4 linked regions of the Homo sapiens genome follow. The protein of the gene in region 1 interacts with the protein of each later gene in a biochemical or structural test. Each region holds a gene or a part of one and is shown in the gene's direction. Other genes may lie near its edges. The genes, in order: SNTG1, DTNA, PLEKHA1 and SNAP23.

Region 1 (7,028 bases):
AGACTAAGTGTTGTTGGCTGTTGCTTACATTTGAGACTCAAAAGAGAAAGGTGAGATGGGATTACATAATCTAGAAAATGTAAAGTATATATAGGACCAGAGGATAATTTAAAATGAGCCCTGGAATCCATTCAATTGCCTTCTTCCAAAATGTTATAAAAACACTTCTTGATTAATTTTTGCATAGACTATATAAATATTACTTGTATATTCTAATGTAATTATTCATACCATGAAATCGTATTGGATTTTAATGCTCACAGTTTGCCTTTGGAGTTATTTACTTGGGTTTCAATCAAGTTCAAACATTTATCAAAAAATATAAAAGTAAAAAATGACTATTGCTAATATTTAGTAATTGGCTGTTTTTGACCACTTAAAGATTTATAAATTCCAAGCAGCTAGCCTGCTTACTCACCTAGTTCTGTTAAGCAACACAAAAGCCACTAGGAAAGAAAAAAGCATATTGTAAGCTAGAAATTATTTCCATAGTAATCTCACCTTCCCAGAAATCTGTACAGTGTGTTATAGAATAGAATTCAAATGGAGAGAGATCTCTTATTTGGTGTTTTCTTCCTATTTAGCTTAGCAGAGTGAGCACATAGCATGTGTTGGAAGAGACAACATCCTGTGGTAAGAAACATGTTACACATCATGTTGTAGGGAAACAAGTACTACTTGACAGTCAAAAGATCAGAATTTTTTAACTGCTGGCCATAAGATCTTCTACAAGTCACTCAATCCACTGCAGCTGAATTTTTCTTCCTTAAATTTGGGGATTCTTTACTTTTCAATGAAGACACAATAATTTACATACAGCTGATACCTGAACACTCATGAGATAAGTGAATGATGCCTACTTTGTGGGATACTGGAAAGTCGAAATTCAATGATTTTGAGAGTGTTTTGGAAACAAGTGTTATATCTGTGAGTTATTATAAATAATTTCCAATAGCATTCATTCATTCGTCAAAAAAAATCCCACTAATTACTAAATAACAGGCACATCCCTTATACTTAACAACTCTCAGCATAGGGAATATAATACTTCCCTGATACTTCAGCAGTCATTTCCTTTACATCTCTTAATGGTATAAATATAAGTGATATTCAATGAAGGTGGACTTGGTTTCAAAAATATTTTATTACTCAGAACTGACACCACATTCTATATCAATTGGACAAACTTAGTTGACCTGAGTCTATTTCAACAACTTTCATTTTGACCTTCAAAGAATCTATCATGTCGTGTCATAATTTTCTAGTTTATAAAGGAGGATTAATGTTTGTCATTAGTGATATTGATAAGGAAACTCATACGATGAAATACACTTCAAAACTCCATATCCTAAAACATACAGAAAGCATTGTGATTTGACTGCTGGCTTGTGAGCATGGAGTGAAATGTGGACAACATGCGGGCTGATCTAAGGGGCTAGCCTGGAAATGCTGTTAAGATGTTGTTTTGATTTAGTCGAAAGCCTAGATTTTATTCATAGGCCTCTTTAGGACATCTCTTTAGAAAATCGAATAAGCAGTATTTCATTGCTTATTTGCTTTTCTTAGTCGGGTTTTAAACGTCACTATGATTTTTTCAATGTAATTTATCAACATTTGGTCTGTATAGATTTCTAGACTATCACTAAAAATATACTGACAGTATTCTTAGGAAATATAAGTCAATGTTTGGTGTTACAGTTATTTCCAGCATTGTTTTGTGGTTAAATTATATAATTGCACCAGCGATAAAAAATTATATCATCACTTACTTAGTAATATAATTCAGATTTTTTTTTGTCAAATACACACACACACACACAAAAACCCAGAAACAGTCAAAAACATAAAATGAAAAAGAACTGAGAGTAAGAGGTCATTAAAATAATGTCTTGAGGCCAGAGAATTTATCTTTGAATTATCCTTAAATTTTCACCGTGAAGTTTCTTCAGCACATTCTACACACTGAAAGAGTCAGAAAATCATTTTGGGTCTCCTGAATTTGGTCTTCAATTTGTCAGCAAAGATAAAGTGATCATGTTATATTTTTTTTCAAAAAGAGTGTCATTAAATCAATTCATTTGAATACTTGCTTATTATCACTTCATCATATGTAATGTACATACTTGAAGATATTTTTAAAATTAAAAATTGTGAAGTAATTATATGCTCTATGTTTAACAAATTTACTCACAATTTCGGTCTAAGATTTAGTTTTTTAAAAGAATAAGTGCTTGCCTGGTAAATTCACTAAATAAGCTAATAGAAAATAGAAATCTTTTAGAAATGGTGCCAAAATTTGAACAATAATGTGTTACTTATATAAAACTATGAAAAGGCCAAGTACAGTGGCTCATGCCTATAATCCCAACACTTTGGGATACCGAGGCAAGAGGATCACTTGAAGCCAGGAGTTCAAGACCAGCCTGGGCACCACAGTGAGACCTCGTTTCTTCAATAGAAAAAAAAAACATAAAAAATAAAAAAATAATATCTGGGTGTGGTGAATGTGCCTGTAGTCTCAGCTACTCAGGAGGCTGAGGTAGGAGGATCACTTGAGCCCAGCAGTTTGAGGCTGCAGTGAGATATAATCACATCACTGCACTCCAGCCTGAATGAGATTCTATCTCAAAAAAATATATATATTAAAAATAATAAATTTTATTTGAATCTTTTCAAGGGGTGAGAAATAAGTATGTGAGATTAAGAAATTTAGATCATAGATGAGAAAAGAGTATTTTATGGTTAAAAATGCATCCAGTACACACAAAATCTGAGGTTCAACATGGTTTGTCATCAATTGGTTGTGTGGACTTGGGTAAATCACTTTATCTTAATTTAACTGCTCAGCTATATCCTTGGTCCTATTGGTAAATCATTATTATGTCCATGAGAAAATAAACAATGTCTATGTTTAGTTGAACTCATAAACTTTCCTTCCACATCTGTCATGCCATTCTTCTTGAAAATGTTTCCGTGCTCTCATGGTGGAACATACATGGGATTTAGAATCAGACTTAAGTTCGAATCCTGTTATAGAAATGGCATTAATGACAAAAACTTGGGCAAGGAATGTGAAGTCTCTAAGTCTGATGTCCACTGCAGTGTGTTGCTGGGAACAGTTAATGAGCAAATTGTATACAATGGCTAGTACATTGACCGGGATTTGTTGAAGCTGGTGAGTGTTATGACTTAGCCTGTTAGACTAGTCTATGCACATGGCTCTGATCAACTACCGCTCTCTCATTTCTCCAGATAAATCCCCCATGCTTTATATTCTCTTCCAAACATACTATCCTCATCACCACATAGTTCTTTTGTTAATGCTTTGTTCTAGACTTTCCCTTTTCTGTTTTCTTATTCAAACCTATATCTCTTTGCATAGATTGTAAATTCAAATGCCCTCAGGGTGCAGGCAGTTCATGTAAGGAGGGAGGCTAGCCAGTGAGATCTGCATCACACTGCAGAAAGTGAGCCCGTCAAGAGTCCTCGACTCAGCTCTGCTCAGTTAGAACAAAACGTGAGAACTGAAAATAGAGAATTTTGTGTGAAATCTACTTTTTGCTTTACCTAATTTCATTGTTAAAATTTTGCATGTAGCGAAACAGACTACATGCTAGATTCCACACATAGCTGCCGAACCTTTTCGTTTCCCATTTCAATGACATTTAATAGAAACCCTAAACTGAGATATTCAGTCAGATTTTTTCCAGACCTTTTTGTTTTTATCTAGAAATGAGACAATGAACCACGACTTGATGAAAAGGTTCATCTTAATATGTTTTTACAATTTTAAAATAAATAAACCTAAAAAATAATGAGTGGCTGAGATAAAATAGATACTTCATGTTTTTGAATGGGCAAAAGTTTTGTGGGGAAAAATTAACTCATAGAACAAATAGGAATGAAGATAGGTCAATAATATTACATAATATGTTTTATTCCAGCATCTTTTCCAGCTACTGTTTTTGCCCCTCATACACATGCAACAGCTACAATAACCCAGATAATAACCTTGATTAACAGTGAGACTAAGAAAAGATTATTAGTTATTGACTAATATCTGCAAATATCCCTTCTTCCCAGAATACAAATTTTCTACTTTTGTGCCTACTCATATGTGTAAAAACAGATAATTTCTTTAGAAAGTTATTTTTTACATTTCATCAGCAAATTATAACACACTCTATAGAATATTCTGTTGGATTTCACAAATTGGAGGCAGATGTCTTATTGTATGTTCGGTGATGTAAGTCCACACACCCACACAACCGCACAAACACAGGGATGGATAAGATTATGCTTTGGTTTGATATATGGCAATTTTTTTTTGTAATTTCTTCTTTTCTAATCCTTGTTAATAGTGACTGTGCCAAAGGGAAAAACAATTCTGCAGTTATTGATGGAAAAAAAGGAGCTTATTTTGCCTAATTGGTATTTGTATATTTTAATTTCTTTTTTTGCTAGAAGTGACAAAATCCCAGCTTAAAGTGGCTTAATCCAAATAAGCAACTAAATAAAAAATATATTTGCAAAAGAGAATTACTGGCTTATGCAGTAGCAGATTATAGCAGGTATGGCTTGATTAAAGTGTTCAAATACTATCCGCATTCTTCAGTGTTGTCTTCATTCCAAAGTACGGTTTGCCTACGTGATAACATTTGCCTCTTTCTCTGTTCTCACTGTCTTTCTCCCTCACTCCTGTCTATGTTTCTGTTTCTGTCTGTCTCTTTTCTCCCCCTCTCTTCTTCATCTCTTTCTCTGTCTTACTCACCTCCTTACCAGTTATAGTTCTACAGTGTTTCCTTCCCAAATCCAGTTCACTTCCTCAATAGTTCCAGTAGATGTACTGGGATTGACCAAGGGAATATTACATATTGGGCTGGATCTTGAAGTAGGATGGGCTTTACAAAACCACACTGATTGAGGGGTATTAGTTATTGACTAATATCTGCAAATATTCCCTCTTCCCAGAACACAAATGACTAGCATAGTGCAGTTTTCAGTGAAAGGGGAGACTACATTAAAGGATAGAAAAGAACAACACTTGTCCTCTACAATGCTAGTGAAGAATCTACCCAAGATTTCTAAGTCACTGAATTTATCTACTGCTGAGGGAATACTCAGCAAAAGTGGGCTCATTGGCTTGTTGTTTCTCTAAAAGCTTTTTTTTCCTAAGGAAAGAATGTCTTAAGATGAAATGTTTGACTTTAAATGTAATTAACATATCAAAGTTTTGTGGGTGTCCTTTTACTATATTATTAACAAATGAATAATATGAAAAGGACACACAAGTGGATTAAAAAATCATTGGGGATAAAAAAATAGTTATTCCAGAACAGTTATTTTTTCTATATTTGGTGACTTTTTTCAGTAGTTTTAAATGATATTTCCTTATTTAACACATGGTGGAGCCTGTTCCAGCTTAGCTAGACTATTTCCCTTTTGTTTTCCTGGTCTGGTTTTAATCTTGAAGAAGTAAAACTCCCGAAAGTAGATTAATCTACTTGTGTACATTTTACACCATTATTATAGATGAGCCAATCAAGAGTAATACAATAGCGCACACTTAGAGTCAAAGTAAGTCAGATTGTGGTAGTTTGTCCAATTCATTAACTTCATAAATTAACTTTATTTTTCTCTTCAAACACATCTTTTTCTCAACTTAAGAATCCTTTTAAGCGATTAGAGAAAACTAAAATATGTCCATTATCTACCTAAGTCATTTGCTTTTATTTTCCATATTGTGTTCTTTTCCAAGAAATCTCCTTGAAGTTGGAACTAGAAGTTTCAGTATAAAGTCTTCATAGGGCATAATAAATGCATTTGGGAAAATGTAACCCTACACTTTAGTTTCCGTTCGTAATACTATTTTCTCACATTCTATGTGTTATACATGATTGTTAGAGTCCTGTTTTAGGGAATCTCATGTGATTCTCACAGCAGGACTAGGAAGCTGACTTTTTCATTCCTGTTTTGCAAATGGGACAATCAAGCTCCAGGAAAGTTAAATGCTTCTCTATAGATTAAGTCAAAATTGAGATTTAGGATCAATATTTAATGCTTTTCTATTCATAAGTGGTTTAGGAAGAAAAACTGCCTCTCTTCTTATAACACCTATTATAGGCTTGACTTGCTTTAGATTGCAGTAAATAAATAAAAAAACAAATAAACAACAACAACAACAACAAACAGAACAGCTGAATTTCATTGACTTTAGTTTTACTAACTAAGTAACTGGAGGCGTTTAGATTCTCAAGAATCTTGAAGGGTTCATGTGTTATCTTGATCTTAATCTTATACAAACAGAGAGGTTTTTGGACAGCATAATCACATGTTGAAAGTCATATTTTACAAGCTTCAGGGAACCATGGTGGACCAGAGTTGATTCTATTGCAGAATTCAGACTTGAGATGATGAGAGCTGGACCTAATTGGGTGAAGGTTAGAAATTAGCCTATTAAAACTAAATGACTAGATGTTAGTGATGCCGCTATCAAATAAAACAAGAATCAGGAGGAGGCCAAATGAGATAGTGTTTTTGTGTACTAGGTAAATGCTCACATATGTAAGTGTGAAATACGCTTCTTTGGAAGGAAAGATGTGATATCTGACATGGGACATGTCAAATGGATAATGAGAGGACATAACAACCAAATGCAGGTGAAGAACCCATTAATTTTAGAAAGAGGGTAAAACCTGACCTATCTAACTCAGAGCTACCGAAGTGGAGATTACTGCTAAAGCTATGAAAATTTATTAGCTATTTGAGAGAATAAAAGAAAAACAATTGTTTACAGACATAAATATCTTTCAAAAGTAAGAAAAAAATAAGAGAAAAGAAGGTCATAAAAGAGTCGTAGAAAGTGTAGGGGAAAGGTATAAAGGAAAATGCATGGAGTTCTAACAAACATACCATGGTTAACAGTGTTGATACTGCACAGAAGTGAAAGGAATGGATGTTTGAGGTTCCTTTGGGTTTGCTCAAAAGCAGATCACAGGGCATCCTGGAGAGAACGATTTCTGAAAAAC
Region 2 (7,357 bases), on another chromosome or scaffold:
TATTCTGAATTTTTTTTTCGAGATGGAGTTTTGCTCTTGTTTCCCAGGCTAGAGTGTAGTGGCGTGATCTCAGCTCACCGCAACCTCCGCCTCCCAGGTACAAGCGATTCTCCTGCCTCAGCCTTCCAAGTAGCTGGGATTACAGGCAATACGCCACCATGCCCAGCTAATTTTGTATTTTTAGCAGAGACGGGGTTCTTCCATGTTGGTCAGGCTGGTCTTGAACTCCCGACCTCAGGTGATCCACTCGCCTCGGCCTCCCAAAGTGCTGGGATTACAGGCATGAGCCACCGCTCCCAGCCATGAATTTTTAATGTATGAAGAAATACATCAAAATGTTGATACTTGTTATTTCTGATAGTTGAATTATAAGTGCTTTTAATATTATTTCACAAATGTTTTCTGTATTTTTCAACTTCTCTACAATGGACATGTAACATTATCTTTTCATGAGAACATGGAAAGTTACAAGTTTTTATTATTAAGTTTAAAAACCAACGTATTTTTCACTAAGAATACATTCAGAATATAAGTATATAATTATAATTTTTAAACACATGAAAAAATACAAAAACAGAGGCTTGAGGATAAATTTCCAAAAATGATATGGCAAAATGATTCAGAGTTCACAATAGGTTATCTGTAAGATATGGAGCCATCAATTTCATAGTGTTATTTAAAAACGGATATTTTCTGTGATGTACTCACAGAAGAAAAACATAAAGAAATCCTTATTATTTATAGCCCCATTGTTACAATTCAAAGGAAAAGTGCATGTTTGAAATATCTTAAGGGTAAAATAGAATATCTTGATATTAAATTGTATAAATTGAGATGGCTTGCAACAGACTTGTTCTTTCATAAGAAATTTTTATGAGCAGAATAGATACTAATCCGATTAATATTTTTTAGGTCAGCTGCTCAAAGTGGCCCAAGAAACAATGTGCTTGCAAAAATTGTTCAGTAGATCACAATCTTTTTTTGTTGCTGTCAACACACTTTCTTTTTTAATTTAAACCAGTGCCCTAACAATAAAGCACTTTGTGGTATGAAAAAATAAATAATAATTTTTAACTATGATGTGAAAATTGCATTTTCAGAGGTTCAAATTGTTTTGCTTGTTTTAATTTCATTAACATTGGCCATCAACGTTTTTTGCAGCCATGTTGCTTAATTTAAGCGCGTGACTTCTGAGCCCATGTTGTTACCTTGAGTTTGTAGGAAATTAGGTGCTCTCACATCTGAAGAGAGGGCAGTGAAGCATATAACTTTGAAGCTCCCTCCTGCTTCTATGGGACTAGGATTTGGCAAATTGACTTCCTGGGGTACCTTCTGAAGCATCATTACCTATGTCTCAAAAACTTTTTCTAAGTGATTGAATTCTTCATATGAAATTAAGTGGGTCACAAGAGCACAGATTATGTTGCATATTTTGTTCACATGAGGGGGAAGTTTAATTTTAACATTTGCAAAAGGGGATTTAAAACTTTGTGAAACCAAATATACTGGCGTCGTATTCCCTAGGGGTTAAAGAATCAACAGTCACTTTAACATCTGACAAAGGATGCACCTTCTGTTTGGCAATCAATCATATTAAATGCTCTAGTAACAGTGTACCTTAACTAGATAAATGATAAGCTCTTACATTTACAAAATGAAAAACAATTAGATACGTGTAATGGCCACATAACCAATCTCCAGGGGAAAAAAATGTACAAGGTAAACACTCCTGATGAAATGAATGCAGTCAGTGAGAGTCTCTATTCAGCCAGCCACACATGAGAATAGGTATGAATTATTCAAATTGGGGTTCAAATTATTCAAATAGTCTCTCCTTCATCAACTGTTTTGAAGAGGATTAGGGAGTGCTAATTTTCCGGTGTAGCTGCTCCTTGCCTTTTTGCCTGGTCGGCCTCACACATTTTTTTGGATTGGATCATCATGAGTCACCGCGCTGAAGGATTTTTCAAGGTTGGAGCAGTGCCAAAGCTATTTTAATCATCCCAACTGATTTGTTGTGGGGCTTTTCTTTCTTACTTACTTTTTAATGATAGAGAAATCTTGCAATGTGCAACATTCACTTTATTCTTTCTGGTAACTTCCTGCAATGAAAAATAAAATTGTTTTTTTCTACCACAGGCTTTTTTAACCCCTGGCTGCTTCTTTGTACCATATTCTTCAAAGGGATTTTAATGCTAATTTTCCTATACCATTGGCTTTGGTGTCAGGTAATTTCCTGAATTTGATTACGATGGAGAGAAGCAGCTAAAAGTCTACACTGGTGAGCAGTTTACAGTACTTGTTAGAGATCAAGGTGACCTTGTAAAGGCTTCTATTGACACAATATTGGTTAATTACTAGAAATGTAATCTATGTATATAATTTATATTTTAAAGCCCTTTATGATGAAGATTCTTTACAGTTCATCTTAATTTGAGAAAGTATCATTAACAAATAACATATAGACCATTTTTTAAGAATCCAAAATGAATACCACAATGAACTGCTGTACTTGTGTTTTTCTTCCATATTTAAAGATGAAAAAAATTAACTACCATGTTTAACATTCTTCCCACAGTCCATTTCATACTAGAAATATGCTTAACCTTCTGACTGATCAGTTGCTCCTAGCTGGTTTGTAGGTTGGAGCAAGCAGCCCTTGCTCTTTGCCTAAAAAGGTCTCTATATTTATGCTGTGTTGTTATGTAAACCTATGTTAGGAAACATAGGATTGTTAATGCACATCTTGTTGAAAATGACAGTTTATTCAGCAAAGGGAAGTCACGTGCCAGTCAGCTTTCTCATGGTCCCTCTTGTTCAAAAATCACATATTGACTAAATAATACTAGCCAGAATTTATTGAGCATTTAGTATGCTTCAAGCTTGGTGCTTCCCTTGGACTATCTCATTTAATCCATTTCCATTCCTTGTTAAAGTAGGAATTTTACAGAAGAGTAAACTGAGGGTTAGAGAGGTTAAGTAACCTATCCAAGATCACAAAAGTAGTATGGGCTAGAGCCAGATTTCAAATCCGCATCTGCTTGATTCCACAATTGCTCTTCTTAAGAACTCCTCTGCCTTGCCTCTCTTTGTGATGTGATGTACTAAGAAAAATTCTGTGCAGATCTCTGAAGGGTTTAACCACAGCAAGCCATGCTCTGAAGACAGTCCTGGAGGAGTTGAGGGAAAGCTTTCAGATGCCATCTTTATCCATTGAAGAAGTAGCCCTACCTAGTGCCAAGTCTTTTGATGGTTACTTGGTAGAGAAAGATGAGTAAGACAATGTTCCTGTTCCTCTGGGAGTCCATCTCTAAAGAGAGAAGATAGATATGCAAACAAATTATTGTGAAATGTAAGCTAAGTTTGGGAAATAAGGAAGGTTGTGCAAGAGCAGAGTGATTATGCGAGGCCTGAGGGATGAAGTAGCCATCCCTGGAGGACGGGGGCACCCACTGGCTGATTAATGTACCATGGTGGGAGGAAGGACCATGCTGACATGCTGGCAAGCGGGGAAGCTCCAGTCACCTGGGACTCCTTCAGCTTTTCCCTAAAGGACTGGTAATGCGCTGAAGGTGATTCCTTAAATCCTAACTACATAGCCATTGGTTTGGGGAGTCCCAGGATTGCTCAGAGTTTGTATCGTTTCAAATCCAAGACTGCTGCTCTTAATATAGAGCCCTCCCCACCTCAGCAAATATAGCCTGATCGATTCCAGCAGGCTGTGTTGCCTGCTTTAAATTTAAATGATAAATTTTAAAAGAACTGAAATCTGTTTAAATAACAGTTAAACACAGGGTTTTGATGAAAAGAAAATGAAGAATTTTACCTCCCACATCTAAGCTGTGATTAGAAGTTTGCTCTAGAAAAAAAGCACTTTGAAACTAGCCCTTCATACACTGATGTAGTGTTTTCAGCATCTGTGTTTACTGAATACATTACTGCATTTTTTAATGTTTCTAAAGGAGCTGTGGGATTATTGCTGCATTTCCTATTGAGTTAGTAACTGACATTTAAAAATATTTAGTTGGCTGATGTAGTAGATAATGATCAGTATTTCAAAAGATTAATGGTGACTTAAAATGCATAGAGATATTTCATTAGTTAGTTGGGAAACCTTTTATTCTTATACTTCTGTTATTTTTTTCTTGTTCATGAAGTTGAGTCAGCAAGAGAAGCATATTCAAATTAGACTTGTCATACAGAAAAAAAAATCTGACTTTGTCAGGGTGGGTGGAGGGGAAAAAAGCAACTTTTTGTCAGTCTTTTGTATTTCAGCAGCTGGATTCATTGCTACCATGGTAACGGACCACATGATGAGGTGTATTAGATTGCTGTGTGTTGAGCACAAGGGGAAGAATGAACACAGCTTTTTATTGAAGTTAAAGGTTACTTTGGAGTTTGTTTGGAAATGTGTAAGGTCAAATACTATAGTTTTCAGCATATGTAGTACTTCAGAGGAAGAATTAAGGGGCATGTTGGTGCATTTAACTACAAAACCAGGTAAGGTACAATTGAATCTATGAAACTGAACTCTCTGACTTCTGTCGCAGTGGCATAACTTGCTGGGTGGAATTTCACTGTCGCCCCCACCCCCACCCCCACATGGGCACCCGATAAATTTCTCCTGCCCACCCTCCTAGCTCCTCCACCTCCGGTTTCAGCTGTTTTTAATTTGAAAGTCTAAGATGTTGTGAAATGTTATAGTTTTATGGCAGTGTGTGTGTGTGGGAGTGTGTGTGTGTGTGTGTGTGTGTGTAAGTCAAAGAAAGAAAACTGCAAAGGAAGTAATAAGAATGCAATAACTGGTGTCTTCAAATCAGCGTAGACCTGAACAAAGTGTTTTCTTGTTTTGTTTTTTGAAAATGGTCCGCTTTTCTTAGAGGACACCTTATTAGTGGCATTTGTCCAAAGCTACTTGTCTCTTCTACTAAATTAAGCAGTAGGACAAAGTTTTCCAGCAAAGTTATCTAGTGTGTTTATTGTATGTGAGCTTTTGTTTTTCTTTCATCATATTATTGCGAGCCTCATCTAACATGTATAGTCCGGTTTTATCTATATTTTTTAAAACATCTATTATTTCTATTAGCATTCTAATCTTTTAGGCATTGTGGCTGTATGTGTGATACAGGATTTAAAAATAGAAGTAAATACAACATGGGTGAGTGCAAAATGAACTCTTTTGCTTAGAGGCTGGTAGGAACTGAATGTAAACAATTCAGTGTGGCTGTGTGGAGCATCAATTCCCAGAGCGCAGACGCCTTCTCATGCGTTGTTTACATATCACCCTGGCAGCTTGTTTCAAAATGGGAGGCTTTGGTACACACAGAGCAAGTTAAAGGAGAACAATTTCTTTAATAATAACTTATTTTAATTACTTTTTCATGGCTTTTACTGATGTTTGATGTTTGATGTTTGACTTTCTCATAAGATATTAGGATTTACTCTAATTTTAGCCAGGGGTTTACTTAATGCAACTTCTTTCCTTCCTCTTAGAACAAAGCTGTCTTAGCAGCTTTTAGAAATAAAACCTAATTAAATAGTAGCAAAGCCCTACTGTTATTCTAGTGTATTCACTGTCCACCTGAAAAAGTGCAGATATAGGAAAATCTTTTTGAAAAATACTTTCTTAGTGAACTAAAATCAATTATGTGCCCTTAATTGGCACTAATTAGGATAAAAGCCAATAAATTTTCCCAAGTTTGTTCATACAGCATGCTTTCTTACAAAAGGAAAACTTAGATTTTATTAAATTTATTTATGCTCTGTGATTTTCGTCGCTATTTCCTTGATCTCTCTAGTTTCCATATGTCCAAGCCATTTTCTAAGTTTAAGCAAGGAATTATAATCATTATTCAAAAAAATTATTTGCCATGATTTCAAATAAAGAGAACTGTTTCCATGATGACAGATATCAAAAGTACTATAATAGCATCTAATATTGTAAATGTTCATGCTTGTATCTGAATTTATTCCTTTCTTTTTCCCTTTGTTGTTTGAGTACAAATGAGCTATGACCATGTCTTTCAAAACATGAGATATTTTCATAAACATAAGTTGTTACTACTAGAGAATAGGGAGTTTCTAAAAATCAGTGAAAGATGGTACCTGGTAAACTATTCTAAAGTATGAAATTATTGAAACTGACAATATCTGAGGTAGAAAGTGTTATGTTTTATTAAAAGAAAAATAAAAGAGGGAAAGAAGAAGCAAGACAGAGACACAGAGAGAGACAAAAAAATGAAAAGATATACAAAAGGTAAAGATAAAAGTGTAAATGATCTCTTACCCAAGCATTTTTCTTTCCCGCCGGTACTGGAAAGGGTTAAATCTGTATCTGTCAGAGAAGAGAGTAGTATGGATGAGGGAAATTACTAAAAAGTATTTTTATTTCACTATTCCATCTTTAAAATACATGATAAAGTATAGATAGTTCCTTTCTATTAAATAAAATGAAAAAAAATCTACAGTGAGGTTGTCTCAGTCTTTGTAGTTATGGGCTACCAGCCAGCTTAGATATTAGAGCTACAAGTGTGTAAAAACCAAGATATGCCCAAATTTCTGTGATCTTTATTCATCTGACATTAGACCATATGTACACAAAAACTTCTGAAATAATTTTAACAGAGATCACAAGATGGAAGATTCTTTTATAGTTGTTTTGGTATTTTCATTCTTAAGAAGCAAAATTGACTTTTGATGTACTTGCTTTAAACTGTAAATTTTGCCAGGATGTTTTAATTGTACAGTATTTGTTTCAACTCTTGTTTAAATTATGCTTTCTTGTTAATTTTGAATAATTTGTAGTGTTTGTTAACATTTTAGCTTTAATCTCTAGAGCTGCCTAGAGTCATAGACCAATAGATAATTATCTGCAAACATTTACCTCTACTAAGGAGACAGATATTTAACAGTTTTTTAACATGTTAAAAAACAACCATATTGAGTAAAATAGTATAGCCTCTGCTAAAAAATTAATGATATTTAAATTCCAAGAAAATATTTCTAAAATAGATGAAGATCAAGCCAATGAATGATGACTCAATATCATCTAGATACTCCATTTTTAGGAGTTATTTTTTAACCTCCGATTTTATTAAGGTGAATTTTATTATTGACCACTATGTAATTTTTGACATGAAAAGAATTGGATTTTTTTTTTAGAAATCTAAGACTTTTCAAATGAAAAAGAAAGTAATGGTACCATGATCATGATGATAATGATAACGACAATAATGATTAATTTGGAGAATAAGATAGATTAGAAAGCTCTTGCCTCTTTGTGTAGTAAAAGGCCAATGCTCTTAGAAGGAAAGTGGAAATTACTAATGGGTAGTATGATTCTCAGAAATTAACCCTC
Region 3 (6,866 bases), on another chromosome or scaffold:
AATCATGCTTCCCCTCACTTGGTCATTGCCAGTTGTGAGGCAGGGTCAGAAAGCCAGCTCCGACTCTTCACCCACAGAAGCAACTCCACTGACTCGCTGCCTGGAGTTCTTGTGCCATTTTTACACTAAAAAATAGGGAAAAGCCGTTTTTAACTCTCTGCTACCCAGTTTCTGGAGGGGACACAAAAAGAACAAAGCCGGGTTCAGAGAGTGTTCAGTTCATGTTTAATTCTTGTTCTATCTTGGTTCTGATTTCTGGTTAGAACAGAGGTTTGCTTCTGGAGGTACTCCTTCTGCTTGGCTTCTGATGCTGGCTCTGTCCATAAAGGGGACTGTGGCATTCATCATTCAACACATACTTCTGTTGTAGGCACTAAGGATACAAGCAGGAACAAAACATAAAATCCCTGGCCACGTGGAGGTTACAGTTTAGAGGGATATGCAGAAAAAAAAATATATATGCACATATATAATATGTACAAAAGTGACCATTGCTAAGGGGAAAAAGATAATGCAGGAAATGCTGCAGACATCAAATATTAGAGAGGTGACTAGCATTCAGGAGCTTTCTGCGTGCCTCTGTACGCTGCTTTTTGTGTTGTCAGAGGGGCTGACGTCTGTCTGGAAGCCCCAGAGCCCAGCACTAAGCATATGGAAGGGGCCCAAGAGCTATTTTTGAATGAAACATCAACGTACTTCACACGTGCAAAGCATGATGATAATGATGACAGTGATACTTTAAAGGTAAACTGCAGGCTGGGGCAGTGGCTCACACCTGTAATCCCAGAACTTTGGGAGGCTGAGGAGGGGGGTAGATCACTTGAGGTCAGGAGTTCGAGATCAGCCTGACCAACATGGAGAAACCCTGACTCTACTAAAAATACAAAAATTAGCCTGTCATGGTGGCAGGCACCTGTAATCCCAGCTACTTGGGAGGCTGAGGCAGGAGAATCACTTGAATTCAGAGGCAGCGGTTGCAGTGAGCTGGGATTGTGCCACCACACTCCAGCCTGGGCGACAGAGCGAGACTCTGTCCCTTCCGGCAGAAAAAAAAAAAAAAGTAAACAGCTAAACTATAGATCCTTGAATTCAGACTCCTCCTTTTTCTTCAGATGAAAAGTAGCCATGGAATATTCCAGCATTCCTCAGTGCCTTCAGTGAGTCCTGAGTGTTCTTGGTTTGCTCCCAGACTGTAATTTCCCTGTACTATTTTTTTTTTAAATAGCACTGAAAGCACTGTTATGTAATAAACCTCTGCATCCAAAAAAAAAGAGGCTGGAAGAAAAGCAGAGAGCTTTTTTTTTTTGTCTCTGTATTTATTGGCTGATCGGGAGCTATGAAGTTCTGGTTATACTGCAACCTCAAAGCAGTCCTGGGATTATCTTGTTGTGTGTCCTTGGGCAAACTGAGTTACTTTTCTGGCTTTCTTTACTGTATGTAAATATGGCTCTCAATGATAAACAGTTTTGGGGACTTGTTATGCAAAAAGAACAAAGGAGCAATTTTTTTTTCTTGAGTCCCGTTCTGTCCCCCAGGCTGGAGTAGAGTGGCACGATCTCAGCTCACTGCAACCTCCATCACGTGGGTTCAGTTGATTCTCCTGCCTCAGCCTCCCGAGTAGCTGGGACTACAGGTGCCCACCACCATGCCTGGCTAAGTAGAGGGGGTTTCACCATGTTGGCCAGGCTGGTCTCAAACTCCTGACCTCAAGTGATCCGCCCACCTTGGCCTCCCAAAGTGCTGGGATTACAAGCAGGAGCCATCACATTGGCCAAAGGAACAATTTCAAACCACTCATCAATGATGTCAAACAACATTTAGGAGAGAGATCCGGCGGGTCCAGCCTGGAGAGGGTGAGAGGCTCTTGGCCTAAGTGTTCTATTCTCAGGACCAGTATTTTCAGATCAAATAAAAGATGTGAATTTGACTTTGAATTTCAAATAAACAAATTTCCCATCTGGAATCTTCTAGGATTCTAGCACTGACAAGCTAGAGACTCCTTCCAGACCTTCTAGCCAGGGAAGGCAAACTCAAATGCCTACAGGGATAAGACAGGTGACACCTAGATTTTTATTTTTAAATGTTAACCACACATTCAGTTAAATCAACAAAAACCCACTGTGTGGACCAAAGGAAACAATCTGCTCTGGCTACTTTATAAACTATAGTGAGGCCAAACCCTTTCAACCATTATACAGATGAGGACCCCAAAAGGGACAGATGTCAGCAAGGCTGCATAGCTAAGGTTTCTCAAAAGATAACCAAAATATCACGTTGGATGAAAGGCAATTGAAAATGCTAAGTCTCAAAGAGGCAGTCAGAGAGCCGTTCTATGCAGTTTGCAAGATGTTTTCACCTCCATCAATTTATCAGACTCTGAGAACATTCTGCAAGGCAGGCAGGGTGGATGACACTCATTTACAGTCGAGGTCACTGAGGGTCAGAAGGGCAAAGTGTCACTCTCTGCATAAAGTCACATAGGTAAGTCTACACAGGAAAATCTAGGGCTGTTCTTCACTACACCTCTGATTCAGATAACAGGTAGGCTTCCTCTAAGATTTTAATAAAGACAAACTCAAAATCCTGTATGATGCCCCATGAAGAGAAACAAGTCAGGAGGCCAGGCTGAGCCCCCAGACTTCTAACCCAGTTCGCAAATAAAGAAAGTGGCAAAGTAGATAGATTCCAGCCTGTCACCAGGGTTGTGTCTTCTGTCCTAGCAGCTGTACAGCTTGTCTTACCACTGGACATTTGTTTCATGTACATTTTCACATAGGAAGGATATTCTAAAAGATGTTGATAAAGATTTTTTAAAGGGTTTGAAGGGGATAGGATGTGATCTAAGGTTGTGCAAGGAGAGGAAAGGAAGAAGCACACAAAAAGAACAAATATTTATTAAGAGCCTAGAGTGGCATGCGCTGTGAAAGGCGTGGCATGTAATTCTTTCCCAGTTCTTTGCCTGTCTGAATATTTCTCATTCTTCAGGTTTCAGCTCAGATATCACATCCTCAGAGAACTTGCCTTGCCACTCTCTCTGAAGAGCCTCCCCCCGTCCCCGCCACCGCTACTGTCTCTTGAACTTTCTCAGTCTGGCCATTCTATTAAAATCTGGAACGATTTTGCTAGTTTGCGGACGAGTTTCCCCCAAGCTGCAGGCTCCATAAGGGCAGTGACAGTGTCTCTTTCTCAGATGAATGCCGGGTTGCCTATCGCGTACTTGGCACACAGTTAAGTGCTCGAGAAATTGCTAAACACTCAACGAATATTTACCAGAATACATATTTATGCTCCACCGTTGCTGAAAGAATTTCGACTAACCCTTCTTTAAGTCTCTCTTACCCTCCTGTACTATTAACACCATTGTAAGTAGGCAGTGGAGCTACATTTGCAGGGAGAGAGAAGAGCGAAAAATTGGCGCGCAGAGCTGTAAAGCGTTTTTCTCCAGGTCACACCGCAGCCTGTAAATTTGTGACACTTGGACCGATTATGGGACAGCTTGCAAACAAATTATCTGCAAACTAACGAAGCCTATTTTTAAAGATCCCTGTTCCTCGCAGCTCTAGGCGATGACATCAGAGAACCCGGAGTTCTACCTCCGAGCCAAGCCCAGTGGTGGTCAAAAACTACGAATACCAGGAAGCACCGCGGCGCGGCGGCCCAGAGCTCCGCGCGCAGGCCTCCCCGGCGCGCCGAGGCCGCCGCCGCTGGAACCAGGAAGACGCCAGAAACTCGGCCCGCCACGCCGCAGGGACCCGCGCGGGGCCTGCCGGGACTCGTAGTCTCTGCGGGCTGGGAGCGCCCGCTCCGGAATCTCAGCCGCCGTCTGAGGGCTGAGGCAGCGTGGGGACGCGTGCGCAGTGCGCGGGCTGGCCGTCGCGGACGCCGCTCCGGGCAGCCGAGCCTCTGTGGGAGCCGGGGCCGCGGCGGCGCGGGTGCTCCGGGCCGAGGCCGCGGTAAAGTTTAGCTTGAAGAACGCGGCCGCGCTGGAGCAGGGGTGGTGGACGGGGCCAGGCGCGAGGTGGCGGCGGCTGCGGGGCTGCCGGGCTGCTGGAGCGCGGTTCCCGCTGTGGCGAGCGGGGAGGCGTCCGCAGAGGGGCGGTGGGTGCTGGTGAGTGCGGAGCCGGCGCCCCCTCTGCGCACGTCCGCGCCACGCGCCACAGCACCTGGAGGCCGCCGGGCCGGCTCACCTGCCCTGGCTTGGGGCAGCGGGAGGGGGCGGCGTCTTCTTCCCGTGGGTCCCCGATTGTTTTCCCGACGTCAGCCCTCAGCGGCGCCCGGCGGGGGAGGGCGGGAGGCCCGCGGCGGTCGCGGGGCCGACGAGCTCCTCGGCGTCTCCGCCCCCCGAGAAATCCCGCTCGGGGCGCGGTGCGCGCAGCTGCCCGGGGATTCCCGGTGGCGCCGGTCGGAGCGCCTCCCTCCAGGGCTGTGCCCGCGGGGCGCGCGTCCCCGGGCATCCTTTCCTGGTGTTTAATGCATTTTGGCTTCAGGACTTGCCGAGGCCGAAGCCGGCTCCGCCCTGGGCCCTGAAGTCGGGCGGTGTCCGCGATTTACCTCCGCACCTTCGGGGCAGGTGGCCAGAGGCAGCGTTGAAAGCGACTTGCCCAAGGTCACGCAGGTGGCACCGGGGAGGCGACCAGACCCAGGTCTTTCGACGCCGAGGCCAGCTGCCAACCGCAGAGCTTTGGGGCCGTCTTGAGTGGTTTGTGGTTTGTTTCAGATGCTTTCTATTGACCTCCTGGAAAGAGGGGAAAGTGTGTCATAATGAAAGCGGTCCTGTTGCTTATAGTGTTTACCGCCTTTGGTAGAATTCTGGTGAGGCTGTGCCCCCGCGCAGAGCATCTACCGTGGTCTGGGCGTATAAATAATGAAACTCCTTTGCTCTCTGGGGGCAGTACAAGAAGAGGTTCAAGGAACAAATAAATATCCAGGCAGTTTCTGCGTTTTCCTCGTCTGTTTGTTTCACCTTCCAATTCTGCAGTACTGGTTTTCTTATTTTACAATTGATCGTTGTTTTAATAAGATTTTCTTTGTTTTAATGAAGTCATTGCCCCTTGTGAGTTAGTTTTCTAAATAGAAAATCTTATTTCCTGTGTGTTTAATGACTGGAACAAATAGTGCACTATGAGGTTTACACCATTGTCTTTCATCTTAGAACTCCTGATCAATCTGCTTTATTTTCCCAAGTACTCAGCTTGCATACTTTCTATGTTAATTTGATGCCACTGAAACCATTTACAGCAAAGTTTGGGTAAGAGTTATGTGATTGTTTTGTGAAACTGTGTTTTTCTTCACAATCTGAAGAACTTGAAGACCCGTTATATTAAAATAATAAGATTTATTCTGATCAAAATACCTGTTTACTTTTCATGCTCTTAATTTTTCCTGTTGACACACTTGTGGCAAAAGAAATATTTCCCCTAGTGGAGTTAAAGTATTTTTTATCTTGGCCAATTTTCCCAAGGAAAATTGCATTTTAGAGTACTGATACATTTAAAAAAGAGTATTTAAGTTTGACAGAATTTGAATTAATAAAGTAGTTAATTTATTTTATACTGCCGTAAACCTTACACTGTATCTACTGACAGTTTTCTCTTGTAGCGTATACCTGTATCAAGATATATGGCTGTGAATTTAGTGACATTAAGAAGATATATATATATATATATATATATATATATATAATATAAATATATGTGTATACACACCGCGCGGGCGCGCGCAGAGCTTCCAATCTTTATCTTGTTAATTAGTATTTTCATTGTCGCTTTGGGAGGGGGGAAAGTAGCAGGTTTGTATCTTTTTTTCTCCCCAGTTTTAGCAGTGTAACAAAATAGGAAAGATGGTGTGTAAAATTGAGTTTGTCATAGACTAGGAGAGACAGTGAAACAGGATAAGTATACAATTGTGAGGAAACTGCCATGAGTTCATAAGCCGGAAGGACCTTTTTAGAAGTGTTTAAGGATGTTAAGAATAGCATTGGATTCTTTTCTTTAAAAGTCATTCAAGTATCGTTTGCTAACATATAGGATATGACAATATTGACCACTCCTAGGAAGATACTTGGGAAAGGTGGAAACATTTTACATTTTTATGGGGACTTCCCCCCACAAAAAACATTTAATGGAGATTTAAACAAAGTGGCTTTTTGACTTAAGCCTGGAAGTTCTTTATTATTATTAGTCATGCTGCAAATCCCGAAGTTATTTTAATTGTGTGATAATTTGTAACCCAGAATGAAATCTAATAAATAGTTTATTAATATAATTTAAGTCATACTTTGACATTGACATATTGCTTGATGTCAAGTCATTATTGTTTAAATAACTTATTTGAGAATGGGGAAGATAGTTTTCTGAATATAGTGTAGTAATTATTTGTGACAATAGTAACATTGCTTTTATTAGAAAATTTTGGGTTGATATAACTAACTGCCTTAAAGTATTTCCTATTTGATTCCAACTGTGAGCTGAGGTAATATGCAAATAATTACTTTTCTCATGCTGGAGCAGTTTACTTTTGTTAATATTAAAATTTAAATTTCAAGATTAAAAAATCTTGTTTTAGATCTGCAATGATACAATAAAATGACTTCAATAGGAGTTAAATATTAAGATTTGGTTTTAGGTTTTTTGACCATTTGTGAGTACACATCCAGCATTTAAGAATTTATTGACATGGTGTCTGAAAGGAATGCTTTCAGAAAGGGCAGAAAACTTGGTAGCTTTAGATGATTGTTTATAATGCTTAATTATTTTTAGAAACATAAAAATATGGGATGTTTTTATGTAAACATAAAGCATCCTGTTATTTGTTATAGCACTAGAACTCTCTTACACTTACTGAGCAATATTAAACCATTTGACCCT
Region 4 (7,028 bases), on another chromosome or scaffold:
TGGTGATTAACATTCAGCTCCTTGTTACTTAACGCAAATTTCTACAGCTGGCTTAAATTTCTTCTCTTTGCTTTATAAATTACTTGGTGGTCTCAGCTCAGTGATCCAGTGATCTGAGTGATCTCAGGAAAAGAAAGAAATATTAGCAAATAAGAGAAACACCTTACATTGCCATACTCCTTTGACAGGTCATGTGAAAGTAATTTAAGTGATCATATCACTTAGCCTGCAGCTTGAATATTTGTCTCAGGCTAGGTTTTACTTTAGGTGCTTGTAGTATGTGTTTATGCACTAGAAAGTTAGTGTTATCATAGTTCCAGCATAAGGATGTCTTACTGTGCCAAATAAACAGTGGAATTCCTATATGTATCTTGATATTTGTTTCTTGTACACTGAATGAACTTAGGTACAATACACACAAGCCCACTTAACTAAAGGTCACATCTTTTTTTTTTTTTTTGACAGAGTTTCACTCTTGTTGCCCAGGCTGGAGTACAATATCTTGATCTAGGGTCACCTCAATCTCCACCTCCCGGGTTCAAGCGATTCTCCTGCCTCAGCCTCCCGAGTAGCTGGGATTACAGGCAGGCGCCACCATACCTGGCTAATTTTATATTTTTAGTAGAGACGGACGGGGTTTCTCCATGTTAGTGAGGCTGGTCTCGAGCTCCCGACCTCAGGTGATCCGCTCGCCTCAGCCTCCCAAAGTGTTGGGATTACAGGCGTGAGCCACCGCGCCCGGTCTAAGGTCACATCTTTTCTAATCATTTAGAACACAACCTAGAACCAGAAAGAAAGTAAACAAAAACAGGCCTGTACTCATGGGACAGCTGTGGAGTCTTCACCTATGAGTCATACCACCATCATAATTTTTGCCATTTAGAGTACTGTTGTTATTTTACTTCATGTTTAATGGGTTTTTTAAAAAAACATTGCCCACTTCCAAAGTGATAATCTGTGAAATCATGGTTTTTATGTATTTTATAGCTTTTTTAGCATCCATTATAATAAATACATAACTATTAAATATATAACTCTTTCATATGTAACAGTTAAAATCATATTCTTGCTCAGCACTTTGGAAGATACTGCTTTGGGCCTAATCAGCTCATTTTTAAAATGAAGATTGAACTAAAGCTTATGGGCTTGAAAATTCTGTGATCTCTATGATGATGTTCATTATCATAACACAATTCTAGCAAAGTTTACTGGTTCCACCAGATGAAAGTAGATTAGGGCCGGGCGGTGGTTCATGCCTGTAATTCCAGCACTTTGAGAGTCTGAGGCAGGAGGATCGCTTGAGCCCAGGAGTTTGAGACCAGCCTGGGCAACATGCCAAGACTGTCTCTACAAAAATTTTTTAAAAAACTAGCTGGACCTGGTGCCCAGTGCCTGTGGTCCCAGCTACTCAGAAGGCTGAGGTGGAGGATCGCTTGAGCCTGGGAGGTCAAGGCTCCTGTAGATTAAAATAACAAAAAGGAAAAAGAGGATGTTTGCTCTTTGATATCAGCTGCCTTTTTTTTTCCCTGAATTCAGGCTTTCCCCCGCCCCCGCCCCAATTTGGTTCCTTTATCTGCAACACTCTGGACATCTGTTTTTGAGCTATGTTTGTACTCCACATTGTGTATATATTAGCATGTATAATATTATAATGTTGCTTATCTCCAAGAGTGCTGAACTTTTTATTCCATTACTATATTTTGTTTCCAGATCTGTAGGTTGACAGACGGGCAGATGACAAGGACTGCTCTTTTCTTTTCCCTTTTTTTTTTTTTTTTGAGACAGAGTATTACTCTTGTTGCCCAAGCTGGAGTGCAATGGTGTGATCTCGGCTCACCGCAACCTCTGCCTCCTGGGTTCAAGTGATTCTCCTGCCTCAGCCTCCTGAGTAGCTGGGATTACAGGCATGCGCCACCACGCCTGGCTAATTTTTTGTGTTTTTAGGAGAAACGAGGTTTCACCATGTTAGCCAGGCTGGTCTCAAACTCCTGACCTCAGATGATCTGCCTGCGTTGACCTCCCAAAGTGCTGGGATTACAGGCATGAGCCACCTCACCCGGCCAGGACTGCTCTTTTTCTTTGCTGTGATAGGTAGAAACTTGAAACAGAAGGATCCAGTGCCTCTAACAATTAGAGGAAGTGGATTATGGAGCCAGGAAACAAAATGTACTGTGTTTTTTTAAATAGTAAGAGTAGAAGAAGCCCATTTGTATTCATTTAGATTCACTGACATTTTGGTTTGGGTTTCAATTTAGGTTGTATTGCTACTAAAGTATTTAAATCACTGATTCCTATGTTTTTCCAGAATTCTCTCTTCTTGTTGCTTTCTGTAAGTTCTGTAACTTAGATGTAAAGTTTGTTTAAATTTATTTTGACAGTGTTTTGGAAATTGAAATTACTTTCGATGGCCTTTCAATACTTATAAAACTCAAGCCAGGTGTGGTGGTGTGTCTGTAGTCCCAGCTACCTGGGAGGCTGAAGTAGGAGCATCAGTTGAGGTCAGGAGTTCAAGACCAACCTAGGCAGCATAGCAAAATAAATTTCAAACTTCTTGGTATAGTATACAAAGCTCTTCACAATATGTGTTCTGTCTTGAAAGCCATCCCCTGCCCTCCATACATACACACACACATTATATTCCTGCCTCACCACTGAAGCCTTACATTGTGGCTTTTTCTTCCTTTTTGATAATTTAATTTAAAATCATAATTTTTTGGACTTGATCATACTTGGATTTTGACCCACACAAATGAGAATCAGGGTGTTTGTGTTTTTTTGTTTGTTTGTTTTTTAAGACAGTCTTGCTGTGTCACCAAGGCTGGGGTGCAATGGCATGATCATAGCTCGCTGCAGCCTCAAACTGCTGAGCTCAAGTGATCCCCCTGCTTCAGCCTCCTGAGTAGCTGGGACTACAGGTGCACGCCACCAGGCCTGGCTGATTTTTTTTTTGTTGTTTAATTTTGTGTAGAGATGGGGGACTTGCTTTACTACCCAGGCTGGTCTCAAACTCCTGGCTTTAAGCAATCCTTTTGCTTTGGCCTCCTAATGTGCTGAGATTGTAAGCATGAGCCATCATGCCTGGCCAAAATCACGAGAGATATTTCATAATTATTATGAAAAGTTATAATAGTTTTATTGAGCACTGTGTGCCAGGCACTGCTCTAAATACTGTGCTTGAATTAGCTCAATCCATGTAACAACACTTAAAGTAAGCATTATTCTCATTTAATGAGGAAACTGAAGCACAGAAAAGTTAACAGTAATCAGGATTTGAAACCATTATGCCTTCAGATATTGGGCACATAACTACTATACTATGTTGTCTTTTGTATAAGCAAGAATGCCACTCTTTTCTGTTGGGGGTATCCTTTCCAGGGACGTGAGTGCTTATATTCTCTCTTTTTTTTTTTTTTTTTTTGAGACGGAGTCTCGCTCTGTCGCCTAGGCTGGAGTGCAGTGGCGCGATCTTGGCTGACTGCAAGCTCTGCCTCCCAGGTTCACGCCATTCTCCTGCCTCAGCCTCCTGAGTAGCTGGGACTACAGGCGCCCACTACCACGCCCGGCTAATTTTCTGTTTTTTAGTAGAGACGGTTTCACCTTGTTAGCCAGGATGGTCTCGATCTCCTGACCTCGTGATCCGCCTGCCTCAGCCTCCCAAAGTGCTGGGATTACAGGCATGAGCCACTGCGCCCGGCAGAGTGCTTATATTCGCTGTCTGTAGCTTCTGACTCTTAATATCGGAATATTTGAAAAACTAACCAGAAAGCATCAAAGTGGCTGGGTGTGGTGTCTCACGCCTTCTGGCATTTTGGGAGTCCAAGACAGAAGGATTGCTTGAGGCCAGGAGTTCAAGACCAGCCTGGGCAACATAGTGAGCCACCCTATATCTACCTAAATAAATAAATAAATAAATAAAGCATCTAAGTGAACTTAATCAGAGCTAAACTATGTGGATGGTTTCGGTGAATATTTCATTCAGGCAGGGTGAATCCTTGCCAATTAATCTCACCCCGTACTTGGTATCTCCCTGGCAGATACCACACTTATGCCTGCCACATTGTCTCTTCCTGGGTAGATTGCCAGCTTCTGGCTCTTGAGCCCCGTTCTTATCTTTCACATAGAACGTCCCCTTTCTGTTCACATAACCATTCTCATTGATAGGGTTAATAAAATTGATTACAATCAAACCTACATCTACCTCCCCAGTATTACTCCTGGGTCACTTAGAGTAGAATTGTGGAAGTTCCTAATTTGACAGGGACTTGAAGACCAGGCGTTGGACATCAAGCAATTAAGTTACCATAGGTGCTTCTGTAAAACTGAAGTTTAATTTTTTTTGTAATTAGAGTCAGGGTCTTGCTATGTTGCCCAGGTTACATTTAAACTCCTGGGCTCAGGTGATCCTCCTGCCTCAGCTTCCTGAGTAGCTGGGACTATAGGCCTGAAAATGTAATTTTGGTTTTCTTTTTGGTTCCTGATTTTTAGTGGGACTTTCCCATTTGTTAATATGATTTCTGTCTTGAATCTTGTGCTTCAGTGTACTTTGAAACCAAGCTGATTTTTGTTTGTTTTGTTTTTTCGTGTTGTTTTTTAAGATGGAGTCTCGCTCTGTCGCTGAGGCTGGAGTGCAGCGGTGCGATCTCGGCTAACTGCAACCTCCGCCTCCCGGGTTCAAGTGATTCTCCTGCCTTAGCCTCCTGAGTAGCTGGGATTACAGGTGCCCGCCACCACGCCTGGCTAATTTTTTTTTTTTTTTTTTTGAGATGGTGTCTCACTCCGTTGCCCAGGCTGGAGTACAGTGGCACAATCTCGACTCACTGCAACCTCTGCCTCCTGGGTTCAAGTGATTTTCCTGCCTCAGCCTCCCAAGTAGCTAGGATTACAGGCACATGCCACCACGCCCAGCTAATTTTTGTATTTTTAGTAGAGACGGGGTTTTGCCGTGTTGGCCAGGCTGGTCTCGAACCCATGACCTCAAGTGATCTGCCCTCCTCAGCCTCCCAAAGTGCTAGGATTACAGGCGTGAGCCACCATACCCGGCCTTTGGTATTTTTTAGTAGAGACGGGGTTTTTCCATGTTGGCCAGTCTGGTCTCAAACTCCTGACCTCAGGTGATCCACCCACCTTGGCCTCCCAAAGTGCTGGGATTACAAATGTGAGCCACTGCGCCTGGCCTGAAACCAAGCTGTTTAGTAGATACGATTCTGTGATGTACTTAGTATATTTGCATTTGAGTTATAGACTTTGTATGGTAAAAAGAAAAGAGTTTTTAAAAAGAGAAAAAAATATGTATGTATATTTGCATAGTTTTGGGGCCTATATATAAAAATGGTTAAAGTTGTTTGTGTAGAAGGAGATAGAAAGGAAAGCCCAGAGAGGAAGTAAAAGGAGGAAGCCATCCTTAACATAAAGGAGACCCTTGCCAGGCAAAGTGGCTCATACATGTAATCCCAGCACTTTGGGAGGCTGAGCCAGGAGCATCACTTGAGGCCAGGAGTTTGAGACCAGCCTGGGCAACATAGTGAGACCCTGCCTCTACAAAAAAAAAAATAATAATATAATAAAAGGGCCAGGTGTAGTGGTGGGCACCTGTAATCCCAGCTACTCGGGAGACTGGGGAAGGAGAATCACTTGAACCCTGGGGCAGAGGTTGCAGTGACCTAAGATTGCACCACTGCACTCCAGCCTGGGCAACAGAGCGAGACTCCGTCTCAAATAAAATAAAGTAAAATAAAATAAAATAAAAAGTGAGACTCTGTCTCAAAAAAAAAGTTGTATATAGCCTATACTTTATATCATCAACTTTAATATTCAAATTTAGCCTTGCAGATGGAACTATTAATATTTAGTAGCTATTACTTTCAGCTACATTTACATAAATGTGACTCATATTCAACATTGTTACTTTCCTTTTGTTTTGCCTACTATTTATTTCCACTTCAGTAAAAATATTAATATAATGGCTAACATTGAACACCGGCCATGTGCAAGGCATTGTACTAAGTACTTTGTGTAGATCATCTCTTTTTAATCTTCACAAAAAAAACAAAACTATAAAATAGAATGTTATCCTTGTTTTACAAATACAGAAACCGAGTTTTAGTGGTGTTAGGTAATTAACTTGGGGTCACACAACAAATACATTGTGAGGCTGGAATTTATATGCTGGAATTCCCACTCACCCACTATGCTATCCTGCTATAAACAGAAGTTTCCTCTTGCTGCGGATGCATTGGTTACCATGGACGTAGACTTCTATCAAGCCAAAGAGAATGCTGAACTTAAAAGTACAGTAATAAACCCTTTGAGTGTAACTCATTGAGGAGCTTTATTGTGATTAATTTTCAGAGAAGGAATAAGGCAGGAAACTAATTTGGTAGAATATTTTAGCTGCAAAATCCTTGTTTACCAGTATAAAAAGAATTATCTTATAAAATCATTCTTTGCAAGACCCTGTGAAATTGATGGTGATTTTTTTTTTCTTTTTTTTTCAGACAGTCTTGCTCTGTTGCCCAGGCTGGAGTGCAGTGAGTCTTGGCTCACTGCAGCCTCTGCCTCCCAGGCTCAAGCCACAGACGTGCACTACTGCACTCGGCTAATTTTTGTGTTTTCTTTTTAGTAGAGCTGGGGTTTCACCGTATTGGGCAGTCTGGTCTTGAACTACTGGCCTCAAGTGATCCGCCCACCTCTGCCTCCCACAGTGCTGGGATTACAGGCATGAGCCACCACGCCTGGCCTGATGGTGATTTAAAGTGCTCTTTCTTCATTACTTCTTGAGTAGCTCACCAGTTTTACAAATGAAGCCACATGGATCTTCCAAGGCCTTATTTAAATTCCAGGGCCTTTTTTCTGTGTATTTCTTTCCAAGAAGCTCATTTACTTTTCCTTTCTTCTTTTCTTCTCTTTTCTTTTACTTCCTTTCTGCTTGCATTTTTTTTTTTTTTTTTTGAGACGGAGTCTTGCTGTTGCCCAGGCTGAAGTACAGTGGCATGATCTCGGCTCACTGCGACCTTTGCCTCTCGGGTTCA

The links.
Region 2: the proteins of SNTG1 (region 1) and DTNA form a complex in vitro, tested with the Homo sapiens proteins (one study listed by BioGRID).
Region 3: the proteins of SNTG1 (region 1) and PLEKHA1 form a complex in vitro, tested with the Homo sapiens proteins (2 studies listed by BioGRID and IntAct, with this or other methods).
Region 4: the proteins of SNTG1 (region 1) and SNAP23 form a complex in vitro, tested with the Homo sapiens proteins (one study listed by BioGRID).

What each region holds. Positions count from the first base shown.
Region 1 is NC_000008.11:49,914,390-49,921,417, forward strand, and holds part of SNTG1 (gamma-1-syntrophin), read left to right. Parts: intron 1-584; exon of another isoform or gene 585-633; intron 634-7,028. UniProt on the Homo sapiens protein: Adapter protein that binds to and probably organizes the subcellular localization of a variety of proteins. May link various receptors to the actin cytoskeleton and the dystrophin glycoprotein complex.
Region 2 is NC_000018.10:34,705,946-34,713,302, forward strand, and holds the start of DTNA (dystrobrevin alpha), read left to right. Parts: upstream 1-4,352; 5' UTR 4,353-4,500; intron 4,501-7,357. UniProt on the Homo sapiens protein: May be involved in the formation and stability of synapses as well as being involved in the clustering of nicotinic acetylcholine receptors.
Region 3 is NC_000010.11:122,370,854-122,377,719, forward strand, and holds the start of PLEKHA1 (pleckstrin homology domain-containing family A member 1), read left to right. Parts: upstream 1-3,854; 5' UTR 3,855-3,953; exon of another isoform or gene 3,954-4,108; intron 4,109-4,487; exon of another isoform or gene 4,488-4,706; intron 4,707-4,724; exon of another isoform or gene 4,725-5,248; intron 5,249-6,866. UniProt on the Homo sapiens protein: Binds specifically to phosphatidylinositol 3,4-diphosphate (PtdIns3,4P2), but not to other phosphoinositides. May recruit other proteins to the plasma membrane.
Region 4 is NC_000015.10:42,498,628-42,505,655, forward strand, and holds part of SNAP23 (synaptosomal-associated protein 23), read left to right. Parts: intron 1-7,028. UniProt on the Homo sapiens protein: Essential component of the high affinity receptor for the general membrane fusion machinery and an important regulator of transport vesicle docking and fusion.